Homo sapiens: one gene and its partner. The protein of the gene in region 2 interacts with the protein of the main gene of each other region in a biochemical or structural test. Each region holds a gene or a part of one and is shown on either strand. Other genes may lie near its edges.

Region 1 (6,896 bases), on a different chromosome or scaffold from region 2:
AAAATTTTTTTTTTGAGACAGAGTCCCGCTCTGTTGCCCAGGCTGGAGTGCAGTGGCACGATCTTGGCTCACTGCAACCTCCACCTCCCGGGTTCAAGTGAGCCTCCTGCCTCAGCCCCCCTAGTAGCTGGGATTACAGGCACATGCCACCATGCCTGGCTAATTTTTGTATTTTTAGTAGAGACGAGGTTTTGCCATGTTGGCCAGGCTGGTCTCGAACTCCTGATCTCAGGTGATCCACCTGCCTCGGCCTCCCAAAGTGCTGGGATTACAAGCATGAGCCACCACACATGGTCTAAAATATTTTTCTTAAAAAAAGAGTTAATGTACATCAACTGCTGCTTGGTATAATGCTTGGCATCTAATAAGTTTCAACAACTGTTTGTTTAATGGCAGTCTGGATAATGAATCTGATCCAGCGATTGCTTATAGAATAGAAAAATGAAAGATGCATTTCCCTCAATAAATCCAATTTCATAAGGCAATCTTAATACAGCTCGAACCTGCTACCCACCTCTCTTCTAATAAAGATCTCCACAGTTTTGGCCGGGCGCGGCGGCTCACGCCTGTAATCCCAGCCGAGGAGGGCGGATCACGAGGTCAAGAAATCGAGACCATCCTGGCCAACATCGTGAAACCCCGTCTCTACTAAAAATACAAAAAATTCGCTGGATGTGGTGGCGCGTGCCTGTAGTCCCAGCTACTCGAGAGGCTGAGGCAGGAGAATCGCTTGAAACTGGAAGGCGGAGGTTGCAGTGAGCCGAGATCGCGCCACTGCACTCCAGCCTGGGCAACAAGAGCGAAACTCCGTCTCAAAAAAAAAAAAAAGATCTCCACAGAAGATAAAATGGAGGTTCCTATGCACTTTACTTCAGAAATGCTATCATAGATTTATATTCATGCTCTTCCAGTATGAGACTAAATATACCATAATTTATAACTCACATTACTTCATTGCACTTAAACCACATGTTAGCTTACCCCTGAAGAGTTCTAAGGGGTAAAATGGTCTGCCAAAGTTAAACAACACTCTGAAATTGGTGGTCTACCTGGAAGTGTAAGCTGGTTGTCTGTTTAACTCATTCTCTAATAATAATTTGCTGGGTCATCAATTCAATTTCTCTACCAAAAATTCCAATCAAATGTCAATTACATCTATGACAGCATTTTTCCATTTATACACTTCCAACACACTGCTCAATTTAAGAGGGGAAAAAATAACCACTTCAAAATTTATTATAGTGAAGTCTATTCAAGGAAATTGCAAAAAAGTGAGAACTCGCCAAAAAAATATTTATTTTCTCAGCATTTGCATTCCACACTCAACTGTACACTGAAATATAAGTTGCACAAGACAGAAGTCAGAAGCCTGGGAAGGGTTCTGGAAGATGGACATAGCTTTAAATCTGACACCATCATTTTCTAGCTGTGTAACCTAAGCATTTTATTTCTTAGTCCTGATACCCTTCATCTGTAAATCAGGGACTAGAACAGTATGAACCTCATAGGGTTGCTGTATTAAATGAGGTTATGTATGCTAAGTGTTTACAAAGTACTTACATCTGAAATAGTAAGTGGGATTCTACCTAGCAGCGCTGCGCACTAAGGTTCTTCATATAGTTGAATAAATGAATATTTACACATTTTATATAAGGAAATAAGTGTATCAATAACTTTAGGTCTATCCTAAGTCAAATTAATAGCAGAAAATACTATTTGGGGGCATTTTGCAGTCTACAAGGCCCTTCTAACATCCATATGTCCATTTGATCTCCCGAACATCCTCAGGAGGTAGATTTTTTTTTTTTTGAGACGGAGTTTCACTCTTGTTGCCCAGGCTGGAGTGCAGTGGCACGATCTCGGCTCACTGCAACCTCCGCCTCCCGGGTTCAAGCGAGTCTCCTGCCTTAGCCTCCCGAGTAGCTGGGACCACAGGCGTGCACCACCACGCCCGGCTAATATTTGTATTTTTAGTAGAGACGGGGTTTCACCATATTGGCCAGAGTGGTCTCGAACTCCTGACCTCGTGATTCGCTGGCCTTGGCCTCCCAAAGTGCTGGGATTACAGGCGTGAGCCACCGCTCCTGGCCTGGGGGTAGACATTTTTAAGACAGTCCTTTCAGAGATAAGGAAACTGGTAACAAAGTGCCAAGGTTACCCACCCTAGTGGTATCCTCCAACCATTCTCCAGCTCAGGGGTAAGTGATCAGTGGCAAATGTTCTTAATACAACATCTTGTATTAACATAACATTTCTGCAAGTTACCACCCTCCTCAAGCATAGTTAAGCACAGGAATCCAGGAATAAGCCAAAAGTAATAAATCCCGACAGACCACTGATGACACTTATCATCTTGCATTGTTTCCTCACTTGGTGTCCTCCCACACCTCTAGGGCGGGGACCAGATCTGTGTGTAGGTGCCCCCTCCCCGACCGGAACCCCCAACACGAAACCTGGTATCCAAGAGGCCCCAGTTTGTGGGAGTGTATGTGGAAATGGCATGGGATGCTGGCAGGAGGTTTTCCTGTCAGAGACCCGAAATGACGCCAACTCCGCGGTGGGGACTAAGCTTCTCCGGCAGATATAGACTCGTTGGGCGGAGAGGGTCCGACCGATAACCGGGCTGGGAAGGATGGCTGAGGACTGACGCCGCTAAGGCAAACCAGGGAAGCTGACACGCTGAGGGCACAGAGGCACAGACGAGGCGGGTCTGCCCGCAGCGATGGCTGGAAGGCTAGGGTCCAACAGAGGCTTGGGGGCCGGGGGAATCAGGGCAGTTGGAGTCTGGGGGGGAGGGGGCCGGCCTGCTGGTCTGAGAAGGATCTGAACCCAATCTGAGGAGGGTTCTGAACTCCTCTAGGGGCCTACTCCCCATCCCACGGAGGCATCTGCTGCACCGAGTACTCGCTGCTACCTGAAACTGCAGCAGCTTCTCTGTCTGCTCCTGGGTTAGATCCCGCTCCTCAGGCGCCGCCATTTTGCCGCCGCCTCTACGCTCCTGACCCGTCCGCACCGTCACCCGCCGGAACTGACCTCAGCCACAACCACATCCGGTCTGAACGGCCGCCGGCGCGCAACTGCGTCTGCGCGCGCTGGCCCACTAACCTCCCCCCGCCCCCCGCCACCTCTGGCCGCCGCCAGAGGGCGCCACGCTCGGGCCTATCCCGAACACTTCCGGAAATTGCCGAGGGACTGTCGGTACAAGTCGCTCTTACCATTTAGGCGACGAAAGGATCTGCTAAGATTAGGCGACGAAAGGAGACCTAAGATTCCAGTGCAGTCTTGCAGAGCCGAGAGGGCCCGAATGTGCCTCGAGAAGCTCCGGAGCATCCCGAATGGCATTCGGCTGATTTCGGCTGCTCTCTAACCATTTTCCGGCAACCTCAGATACTCTTGGAGGTTTCTCGGGAGACGCAGCCGTTCCGAAATACCAGCCTTTTGGTCGCTGGCCCCTGACCTAAAGTTTCCAAAAGCTCCTGACCATCTCTCGGGAGGTTCCGAAGGGCTCTGGATACTGGCGCGGCATTTCCGACGCCGCCTTCGAAGCGGAAGCTGTGGGCAGACTTCGGCCACCGTTCCATTGCCGCTTCGGGGTCACTTGCAGGAAGATCTGGACTCGGCTCCCCGGATCCTCGACCATTCATGGCGCCCCCAGTCGTCCGCACAGCTTGCCGTCCACCGCCGTGACTGCGGCGCTGGAACCCCGGCCCGGCATCTGCTTTTCCGTGCCTGGAGCCTTGTCTCTCCGCACTAGCGCTGCACTGGCCCCTTGTCTCTGTGACAGGCGAAGAAAGATCCCTGGACCGGGATTAGGAGACGCGGGTTCTAGTTGCCACCTTGCCAACTGCTGGACATCCTTGGGCAAACCACTTGGGCTCCATTTTGCCATTTGTTGAATGAGATTCCCCAAAAGCCCCTGACGTGCTGCCGCCGCCCCTTCTCCTCGAGGCAGTCCCCTGCCCTTCCCTTCTGCTGCTTACACTACCCTATCACCACCCCTCAATCTCTATCTTCCTCTGCACGTCCCTTGCCCCTTCTAGTCCGCCACCTCTCTTTAGATTTCCCGTTTTCATTTCCACCTCTCCCGCCGAACGCCTCCTCTGCCCACCTTCCAGAGAGGCCTGGGTCTGGTACACGCTTTTCCACTGACCACCTGTGTGATTCTCAGCAAGGCTCTCGGCCGCCTGCGCCCCACCCTCGTCCCCTTGCAGGGTTGATCCGGTGAGACAGAAAAGGCTTTGAGAGCTGGTTCTGTGAAGAGTACATGAAATTTTGGCTACTTCTTTCAGGACTTATCAGGTCTTACCAGGTCTGCACAAACCACGACGTCCTGGAAAAACAGCACATGGTACGCCCTAAAACACAACCCCCAAAAAGTGCTAATTGGAAAAACAAAACAAAACAAAACAAAAACCCTGCAAATTTGGATCTGCATATGAAATCTTTCCGTTTAAAAATGGTGTCGGCCGGGCTCTGTGGCTCACGCCTGTAATCCCAGCGCTTTGGGTGGCCGAGGCGGGCGGATCACTTGAGGTCAGGAGTTCGAAACTGGCCTGGCCAACATGGCGAAACCCTGTCTCTACTAAAAATACAAAAATTAGCCAGGGTTGGTGGCGCACGCCTGTAGTCCTAGCTACTCGGGAGGCTGAGGCAGGAGAATCGCTTGAATCTGGGAGGCGGAGGTTGCAGTGAACTGAGATTGCCCCACTGTACTCCAGCCTGGGCGACGGAGTGAGACTCCGTCTCAAAAATAAATAAATAAATAAATAATATGTCAATTAAGTAAAAACCCCCGAAGGTAAAATCGGAAGCAGATAGCTGCTACTCTATAGAGAATTTATTACAGCAGCTCAAAGCTCAAAGGAAACTCAGTGTTGTTCAATCTCACCAATAACGTTGGGTTCAGATAAACTAAATGAGGGTTGGCAAAGTCAGATGTCCTCAGGAATTGTGTAATTCTCACTTAAGATATATACTTGCCAGCAGGCATGGTGGCAAATGCCTGTAGTCCCAGCTACTCGGGAGGCTGAGGTGAGAGGACCACTTGAGGCCATGAGTTCAAGGCTGTTGTATGCTGTGATCACACCACTGCATTCCAGCCTGGGTAACATATTCTTTCAACAGACCTAATTTGTAGTTATATGAAACACCATTGAATATTTCTTCACTTCCTCAAAGAAAGTTACACTTTCTTTTTCTATCTTTCTGTTTTCTTCTTTCTTTCTTTCTTTTCTTTGAGACGGAGTCTTGCTCTATCGCCCAGGCTGTAGTGCAGTGGCCTGATCTTGGCTCACTGCAAGCTCTGCCTCCTGGGTTCATGCCATTCTCCTGCCTCAGCCTCCTGAGTAGCTGAGGCTTACAGGTGCCTGCCACCATGCCCGGCTAATTTTTTTTTTGTATTTTTAGTAGAGATGGGGTATCACCGTCTTAGCCAGGATGGTCTACGATCTCCTGACCTCGGGATCCGCCCGCCTCGGCCTCCCAAAGTGCTGGGATTACAGACGTGAGCCATCGCACCTGGCCCTGTTTTCTTCTTTCAATAAAGATTAGGTTACAAGAAATAATTCATTTGTTTAAAACTCTACTTTAATGTGTCTCCGTGTGGGGACAAAATATGAAAAGCCGGAGTGTCCATTCCCTGTCCAAAGGTGGTTTTTGGCCAGACGCGGTGGTTCATGCCTGTAATCCCAGCATTCTGGGAGGCCAAGGTGGGAGGATTGTTTGAGCCTAGGAGTTGGGGACCAGCCTAGGCAATATAGTGAGACTGCCTCTACCAATTTTTTTTTTTTTTTTTAATTAGCCAAGTGTGGGCCGGGCACGGTGGCTCACACCTGTAATCCTAGCACTTTGGGAGGCTGAGGCGGGCAGATCTTGAGGTCAGGAGATCAAGACCATTCTGGCTAACACAGTGAAACCCTGTCCCTACTAAAAATAAAAAAAAATTAGCCAGGCATGGTGGCAGATGCCTGTAGTCCCAGGCCGAGGCAGGAGAATCGCTTGAACCTGGGAAGCAGAGGTTGCGGTGAGCCGAGATCGTGCCACTGCACTCCAGCCTGGGCAACAGAGCGAGACTCTGTCTCAAAAAAAAAAAAAAAGTTAGCTGAGTGTGTTAGTACGCATCTGCAGTTCTACCTAGTTAGGATGCTGAGGCAGGGATGATCACTTAAACCCGGGAGGCAGAGGTTGCAGTGAGCCATAGTCATGACTGCACTCCAGCCTGGGTAACAGAGCAAGACCCTGTCTCAAAAAAACAAACAAAAACAAAACAAAACAAAAAACAGACGGTTTCTGCCTTTTAGCTGTGGAGGATGGCTTCCATGTATTGCCGGAACTGCCCATTTTTTTTTCAGAGCACAGACATTCTCACCCCCCCAAAAAAATGTGAGGTGATGCATATGTTCATCAGCTTGATTTAGCCATTCCACAAAGTACACATATTTCAAAACATCATGTCCTACATGATACATTTTATTTGAAAAACATCACATTGTACACCTTAAAAAGTAAAATATGCTAATTTGAAAAGAAAAACTCTACACATTTGGATTTCCATGTGAAATCCCCCCATTTAAAAATGGTGTTGGCCAGGCGCGGTGGCTCATGCCTGTCATCTCAGCCCTTTGGAAGGCCGAGGTGGGTGGATCATCTGAGGTCAGGAGTTCAAGACCAGCCTGGACAACATGGTAAAACCCCGTCTCTATGAAAAATAGAAAAATTAGCCAGGGATGGTGGCCCGCACCTGTAATCCCAGCTACTTGGGAGGCTGAGGCAGGAGAATCACTTGAACCTGGGAGGCGGCGGTTGCAGTGAGTCGAGATCACGCCATTGCACTCCAGCTTGGAAGATAAGAGTGAAACTCCGTCACAAAAAGAAAAAAAGAAAAAGGTGTGAACTAA
Region 2 (7,095 bases):
TCTTCTTGGTCTGGTGTTCTTTCCGCAGCTTGAGGCTTGACCATGCGGGAACCAGATGGAGAATAAGCGAAGCCTGTGTGGGGCTGTCTCGCCCCGTACTTGCCCATGTGCATGTGTGCACAGTAGGTGCTCAGTGCCTCGTACAGAACATGCTAGAACCCCCGAAAATCAACTCCAGGGCCACTCTAGGAGCATGTGACCCAGACTGTCAAAGTCACATCAGCAAATATGTATCTCATCACGTGCCCAGCCCCAGTACTGGGTGGTGGCAGGAGTGTCAGAGCTGTGATGTGACAGGGTGTGGACAGATGCTAACCTTTTTATTGTAAGATAGAAATCACACCGGATGAAAAGACAAGGTGAACTACATAGTCATTTAAGTTCTGTGTGCTTTAGGCAAATGTGGATATTAAATATAAGGTTACATATTGCTCATATTAATATGAATAATCCCTGCTTGATTCCTTCCTGTGTTTACTGAGACATGTTCAACTACACTAAATAATAGTGATTTTTAAAAAACTTTTCCAAACAGTACAATTTTGTGGGAGTGGTACTCAAAGAGAACAAGAATATAAAATCACTCTGAAGTTATAGCTGATAATTTTTTCTAGGAAAAGGACTGGTTTGAGTAATGTACTGTGTTACTAATGACCACGTTGAAATTCTGGAACTTGAATCTGCTGTATTCTAACATTGTCAACTTTTTTAAAACAGCTGTTGTTGGCCTACTGTACCCCTGTATCGACAGTCACCTCGGAGAACCCCACAAATTTAAGAGAGAATGGGCCAGTGTCATGCGCTGCATAGCAGTTTTTGTTGGCATTAACCACGCCAGTGCTGTATCCTTAATTTTCTGTGCTACGTCCAGAGTATCTTCTTAGGTTATATATTGAAGCGTTTTGTTTTGTTATATACTCAAATGACTCCATGTCATAATACAGACATGATGGTGGTACCTACCCATTTCAGATTACTAAAAAGAGAAAGAAGAATGGGGCTATCGATGACTTCATAGTAAAATATATTGTTTTATGGTCAAAATAAATATATATTTATTTATATTTTTATATATATTATATATATTTTTAAATATATATAATATATATAATAAATATATATTTATATAAATATATATAAGCACTTTATATATAGCTTTCAGCAAGTTTATTCTTATGGTTAAGTTTTTGACTCAGTGATGGCAGGGAGATTTCAGGTGATCTTAATGATTACTGTAACCTGTATCCAACAAATCCTTTCTTTAGCTTATTACACAGTTTTTATGGACAGTGAATTATCTGTGGTACAATAATAAAATACCCATGTTTTTAACCCTTGTGGTTTTACGTTTTTTTATCTTAATAAGAGTCAGCAAACTTTTCCTTAACTTTTATATCACCAGAAATTGGATTTTGCCAATAATGTCCAGCTGTCCTTGACTTTAGCAGCCCTATCTTTGGGCCTTTGGTGGACATTTGATCGTTCCAGAAGTGGCCTTGGGCTGGGGATCACCATAGCTTTTCTAGCTACGCTGATCACGCAGTTTCTCGTGTATAATGGTGTCTATCAGTAAGTGTGTGTTTTCAAATATTGGCTTTGGAAAGCTTACTTAACTTTCATTAAAACATCCACTAAGCTTAGATATTTTCATATTTTATTTGTTTTTTATATAGAATGATACAGATTTAGGCATGAAATTCTCAAAAATGCTGCTATCCATAACTTAATGTAACGCAAAGGAAAACCAAGTAGTAGCAGTTACAACCAAACAAATATGAACATTCGTAACATTGGATGGTTGATATGCGTTCTGCATATCCCCACTACAGAGAATCTGTGATGTAGAATTGAGCCAGGTGAAATTGACTGCTAAGGTACAGTTTCTTTTCTCGCTCCAGGTATACATCCCCAGATTTCCTCTATATTCGTTCTTGGCTCCCTTGTATATTTTTCTCAGGAGGCGTCACGGTGGGGAACATAGGACGACAGTTAGCTATGGTAAGTGAAATGATCATATTATCTTCTAAAACTTGCGTCTCTTTACCTTGATAGAATGACTTTACATGATACATTCAAATTTGCGTTCATATATTCTGGTTCAGACTTGAGTGACAACTACTGAGAAAAGCTTATATTTAAAAAAATAGGTAATGATACCCAGGTAATTCTTTGCTAAATTATAAAAATTCATAATATTTGATCTAGAAAAGGAACTAGAGCCCTCGCACTGCCCCTTTGAATTGCAGATGTGGTCAGTGTTCTGAATTCTTGAAATTTCTGTAGTAAGCAGTAGAGAAAGTGACTGGTGTGTGAGTGTCCCCTCCTCCTTCACCATCGGAAGCAGATCTGGATGACCTCATGCAGTGATACTTTGCTCCCTGAGCATCAGTCCACCAGTGTTTCTTTTCACAAAATCAGAGTGGATGCAGATGATGCTGGCCTCTTAGTCCACAGTCAAGCAAATCGAGCCTGAGGCTGCAGAGTCTGTCTCGGGCCAGGGCAGGGACTAATGTGGGTGGGCAAGGGGACAGCCTGGTTCAGGCAGGCAGCACCTTTCTGTGGGGCAGGTGGCCCTGGGCATGGAGAAGTGGTGATGAGAGCACCGCTGCACGTGGCCGGGTCACCATGTAGACGGACTGTCCTGCCTGAACATTGCATCTGTTCTCAGCTGCAGGAGAAAGCAGTGCTACCCCGCAGAGCTTCTCTCACAGCCCCCCTGAGGGAGACGGAAAGGTAGTGAACTCCAGGATGGCTTTAGCAGTTCTCATTAGTTAAAAATTGACATCTTAGCACTTCAATTTAAAAACATAGAGGTGGACTTTTAAATGTTATTTTGAGTTGACTTTGGCAGGCTGAAAGAAAGTAAATTAAAAAAAACAACAAAAACCTAGAGCTGTTGCTCTCGGAGATAAGCTCTGGGAAAACTTATCTTAGTACCTCATGCTATTTTTAAAACAGTACATTTATTTTTGCCAGCTGATACCCTTCTGTGAGGAGTTGAATTTGAAGACCACTTGGCTGTTTCACAAAACCAGAAGTAATTACAGGTAGAATTTGCAGTCTTCCACTGGTTACTGACTCTCTGCTGCCAAATTTCTCATGATGGAGAAGAAAGGACTTTGCTTGCCTTTTTTTTTTTTTTTTTTTTTTGAGACAGAGCTCTGGAGTGCAGTGGTGCCATCATAGCTCACTGTAACCTTGAGCTCCCGGACTCAAGCAATCCTCCCGCTTCAGCGTCCCGAGTAGCTGGGATTACAGGCACATGCCACCATACCCGGCTAACTTTTTTGCTTTTTGTGGAGATGTTATCTCCCTGCCTTGTCCAGGCCGGGCTCGAACTCGTGGGCTCAAGCCATCCTCCCACCTTGGCCTCCCAAAGCACTGGGATTATAGGCGTGAGCCTGGCCTTGCTTTTTTTAATATTAAAAATCTGGTCGGATGGTCCCACATGGAAATAGTATGTTGTTTTCATGCATTCGCCATCATCCCCGTTAATAGTCTTCAAAGGAGAGCTGGCAACTCCATCATTGCTTTCTTGCTTTGAGATTTTTGTTTCGGTACTCTTTGGGAGAGAATTCCTAAGAAGGTTTTTAGAATAAAATTGTCCTCAACCAGATTGACTAATTACACATTATAACTACAACTTGAATAACATTTAAAGAGTTGGTTATTTCTGTTTGATAGGTTGGTGCTGTTATATGTCAAGGCTTTTTAAATCGGTTTTAAGAAATAAGCATTATTTTGGTGGAGGTAGAAATTTCACAACATTCATAAGTTCTAAACATCTAGAAATGGTTGGAGGAAACATTTTCGTTTTGAAGATAGTTTCATTAAGTAATCCCTGCTGTGCTCCTTTGCTTACAGAAAAAAATGTTAAAGATAACTCAAAATAGGATAGTTGGTGTAATTATAATTCTCCTTACTTCAGCTTTCTCTTCATCCTTTTTATTCTTTAAGCTTGGGGGAAAATGTTTGGATGTTCTCGTATCTTAAAACTGGAGGAGAGAGGCTGGGCGCGGTGGCTCACGCCTTTAATCCCAGCACTTTGGGAGGCTGAGGCGGGCGGATCACGAGGTCAGGAGATCGAGACCATCCTGGCTAACACAGTGAAACCCCGTCTGTACTAAAAATACAAAAAAAAAAAAAAAATAGCCAGGCGTGGTGGTGGGCACCTGTAGTCCCAGCTGCTTGGGATGCTGAGGCAGGAGAATGGCGTGAACCCGGGAGGCAGAGCTTGCAATGAGCCGAGATTGTGCCACTGCATTCCAGCCTGGGTGACAGAGCAAGACTCTGTCTCAAAAAAAAAAAAAAAAACTGGAGAAGAGAGATCACCACCTTAATCCCCTTCCCTGCTGGGCTATCACATGAAACTGACCTCTGAGGTTCTAAGCCTAACCCGCCTACCACTGTTTTTATTCATAAATACTTAAATCCTTACCTCTGGATCCCAACTGTTACTCTTTTTTTCACTTCAAAATTTGCAAACTCATTTCTATCCATCAAACCCCGGAAATGGCCCAGGGGCTTCACAGTGCAGTCCCCTCCCTCCTGCTGCATCCGTTCCTCAGGCTGTGCCCCAGGTTGCATTCGTGGTGCGTGTTTTCTCCCAGGGCAGCCTTCCCCACATTCCACTCTTGTCATACTGTTGACTCACAAAATGGAAGTGGCTGAATGTTCCAGGGATAGTGTCTAAGAGCTATTGGTTTAAGGTTGAAACCTACACCAAGTAAGGCTTTGTGAAGGGAGATGACGAGAGTGAAGTTGTTGACAGTCTGAAGGTGAAGAGATTCCGAGGCTCAGTTCAGCACCGGGACCAGACCCGCCCAGATCCAGGGTAATTTGAGGTCTGTGTTTGGTGCTGATGGTTTTGCCCAGTGCACTCCACACCCTCTCCTTCTTAGCTGTCTCAGTTCTCTTCAGATGCCTTTGTTCTAACTTATGCTTCCCTCCCTTAAGAAGAAACATAGTTACTTGCAAGAATAACCATGCTCAAAAGTTACAAGTTGGCTTTGCTTCAAGTTATATGGTCTCCTAGCTTTTTCTATGTGGTATTTCCCCCCACACATGCCGTTGTCCTTTGTGTCCGAAAATACAGCAGAAACATTTGTTATCAGCCTGTTACGGTTTTTTTGTTTGCTTTTTGTTTGTTTTTATTTTTACTTTTTTTGAGACGGAGTCTTGCTTTGTCACCCAGACTAAAGTGCAGTGGCACAATCTTGGCTCACTGCATTTGAACCGTCTCCCAGGTTCAAATGATTATCCTGCCTCAGCCTCCCAAGTAGCTGGGATCACAGGCGCCCACCACCGCACCTGGCTAATTTTTCTGTTTTTAGTAGAGACGGGGTTTCGCCACGTTGGCCAGGCTGGTCTCGAACTCCTGACCTCAGGTGATCCACCTGCCTCTGCCTCCCAAAGTGCTGGGATTACAGGCATGAGCCACCGCGCCCGGCCCAGCCTGTATGTTTAAAAGAAAATGAGTCTGTAACCATCATTTATAGAACTTGTAGTTGTTGCTGTTTGTAGCTTCAAGTCCTTTCTCAAGAGTAAGCTGCAAACTGCCAACAGCAATCAAGCCTGTCCTGCTGCCACTGCCCGGCCCCACTGGGCCACCTGGAGGCAGAGTCCCGCCCACCTCAGTGTCAGCTTGGGATTTGATTTGCCGTTCCTGTTTTTGATTGACCCAATTCAGCTGCTAATGATAATAATACTATTATTGTTATTGAGGGTTTACATTTGTTGGGCTCTTACTGCTGCACAGGAGGCATTGTGCTGAGCGTTTCCATTGTTAGCCAGTTTAGTCCTCATAACACAAGTCTTTGAAGTAGAAACTATTATTAGCCCATTTTTAAAAGGGGAAATTGCAGCTTAGGAAGATTAAACAACTTGGCCAAGTGGGTGGCAGAGGTCGACGTGGCACCGTGCTTCTCATTAGCATACCACACTGCCCTTTCAACACATAGCTCGCACCTGCCTTCACCCTGGAAGCAGGTTTACAGCAGCCTGTGTTGGTGTCTGGGTTGCCATTTACAATGTGCCACCATTAGGCAACACTGCTGGAAGTCCCTGTGCCACGTGTCAGGTCCGCCCGGGCTGGCTGTCGTTCGTCTCTGGCGTCTTTGCCAGGCCTCACTGTGGCCTCTGTCGACCAGGGATTCTAAAAGTCCACTTCCCATTTATTTATCAGCACATTAGTGAACAGGGAGTCAAATGTGATGACCAGTTTTCTTTCCAGGTTGCTGCCAAGAGTTTGCTCTTTTGTTTTCTCACCGCAGTTTGTATAGAACCCTCCCAGTGTTCATATCTAAAAATTGGCAGTGCTTTCACATGATCAATTCCTAAAAGCATGTATGTTTCCTAGAAGGTCTTATTGTGTGTGTCCCCAGGGTAGTAACTGGCATACCTGGGTGACTCAACCCAGACTCATGACTTTCTTACCTGTCTGTTCAGATGAGAGGCTCTTGCTGTTTTCTGGATGAGTAATCTCCGTCATTGCTGAAGGTGAGGAGCTCAGCTCCTTCCTCTTAAAGTGAGTGGAGGGCAATTAAGTAACGTGGGAAGTCACGATTCTGAGGGAAAAAAATTCTGTATGGAGGTTTCTCTTTTGCCCTTTAGCAGAAGCTCCGTGGCCTCAGGAAGGTCATTTAATCTCTCTGGCTTTGCTTCTTCATCAGTGAAATACTGTTCTCCATTAAGAATTTACCCTGAGGTGCCTGGTCATAGTAGTAACTGTAGTGTCTACCTCTCAGAAGCTCTGTGAGGGTCAGATGAGGAAGAACATGTAGAAAGGATTTCCCAACTGTGAAGCTCTGTGTGAATTGAGGGCACACAGAGCTTCAGTATTACAAAGCATGACCTATTTCCAATGTCTGTTTCAACAAACTGCTGGTAAGGTGGGTTATAACACAGGCATCAGATACTAATAAAGGTTTGTGGCAGAAACCTCCCTTCAGATAAAGGTTCAATCCCTTAAATTGCAGTTAGAACTTTCAGGAACCTATCATACCCTAAGCATCACCATGCTTTGATAAAATTGGGTGTTTCCTTTATATAGATATTAATTTAGTTAAACTTTCACCAATATCTTACACTTATATA

Evidence for each region. Proteins that work in one complex are often made in the same cells at the same time.
Region 1: the proteins of INSIG1 (region 2) and FAF2 form a complex in vitro, tested with the Homo sapiens proteins (one study listed by BioGRID).

What each region holds. Positions count from the first base shown.
Region 1 is NC_000005.10:176,444,489-176,451,384, reverse strand, and holds the start of FAF2 (FAS-associated factor 2), read right to left. Parts: upstream 3,001-6,896; 5' UTR 2,978-3,000; coding exon 2,915-2,977; intron 1-2,914. UniProt on the Homo sapiens protein: Plays an important role in endoplasmic reticulum-associated degradation (ERAD) that mediates ubiquitin-dependent degradation of misfolded endoplasmic reticulum proteins.
Region 2 is NC_000007.14:155,300,849-155,307,943, forward strand, and holds part of INSIG1 (insulin-induced gene 1 protein), read left to right. Parts: intron 1-717; coding exon 718-842; coding exon of another isoform or gene 843-872; intron 873-1,402; coding exon 1,403-1,569; intron 1,570-1,898; coding exon 1,899-1,998; intron 1,999-2,976; coding exon of another isoform or gene 2,977-3,047; intron 3,048-7,095. UniProt on the Homo sapiens protein: Oxysterol-binding protein that mediates feedback control of cholesterol synthesis by controlling both endoplasmic reticulum to Golgi transport of SCAP and degradation of HMGCR.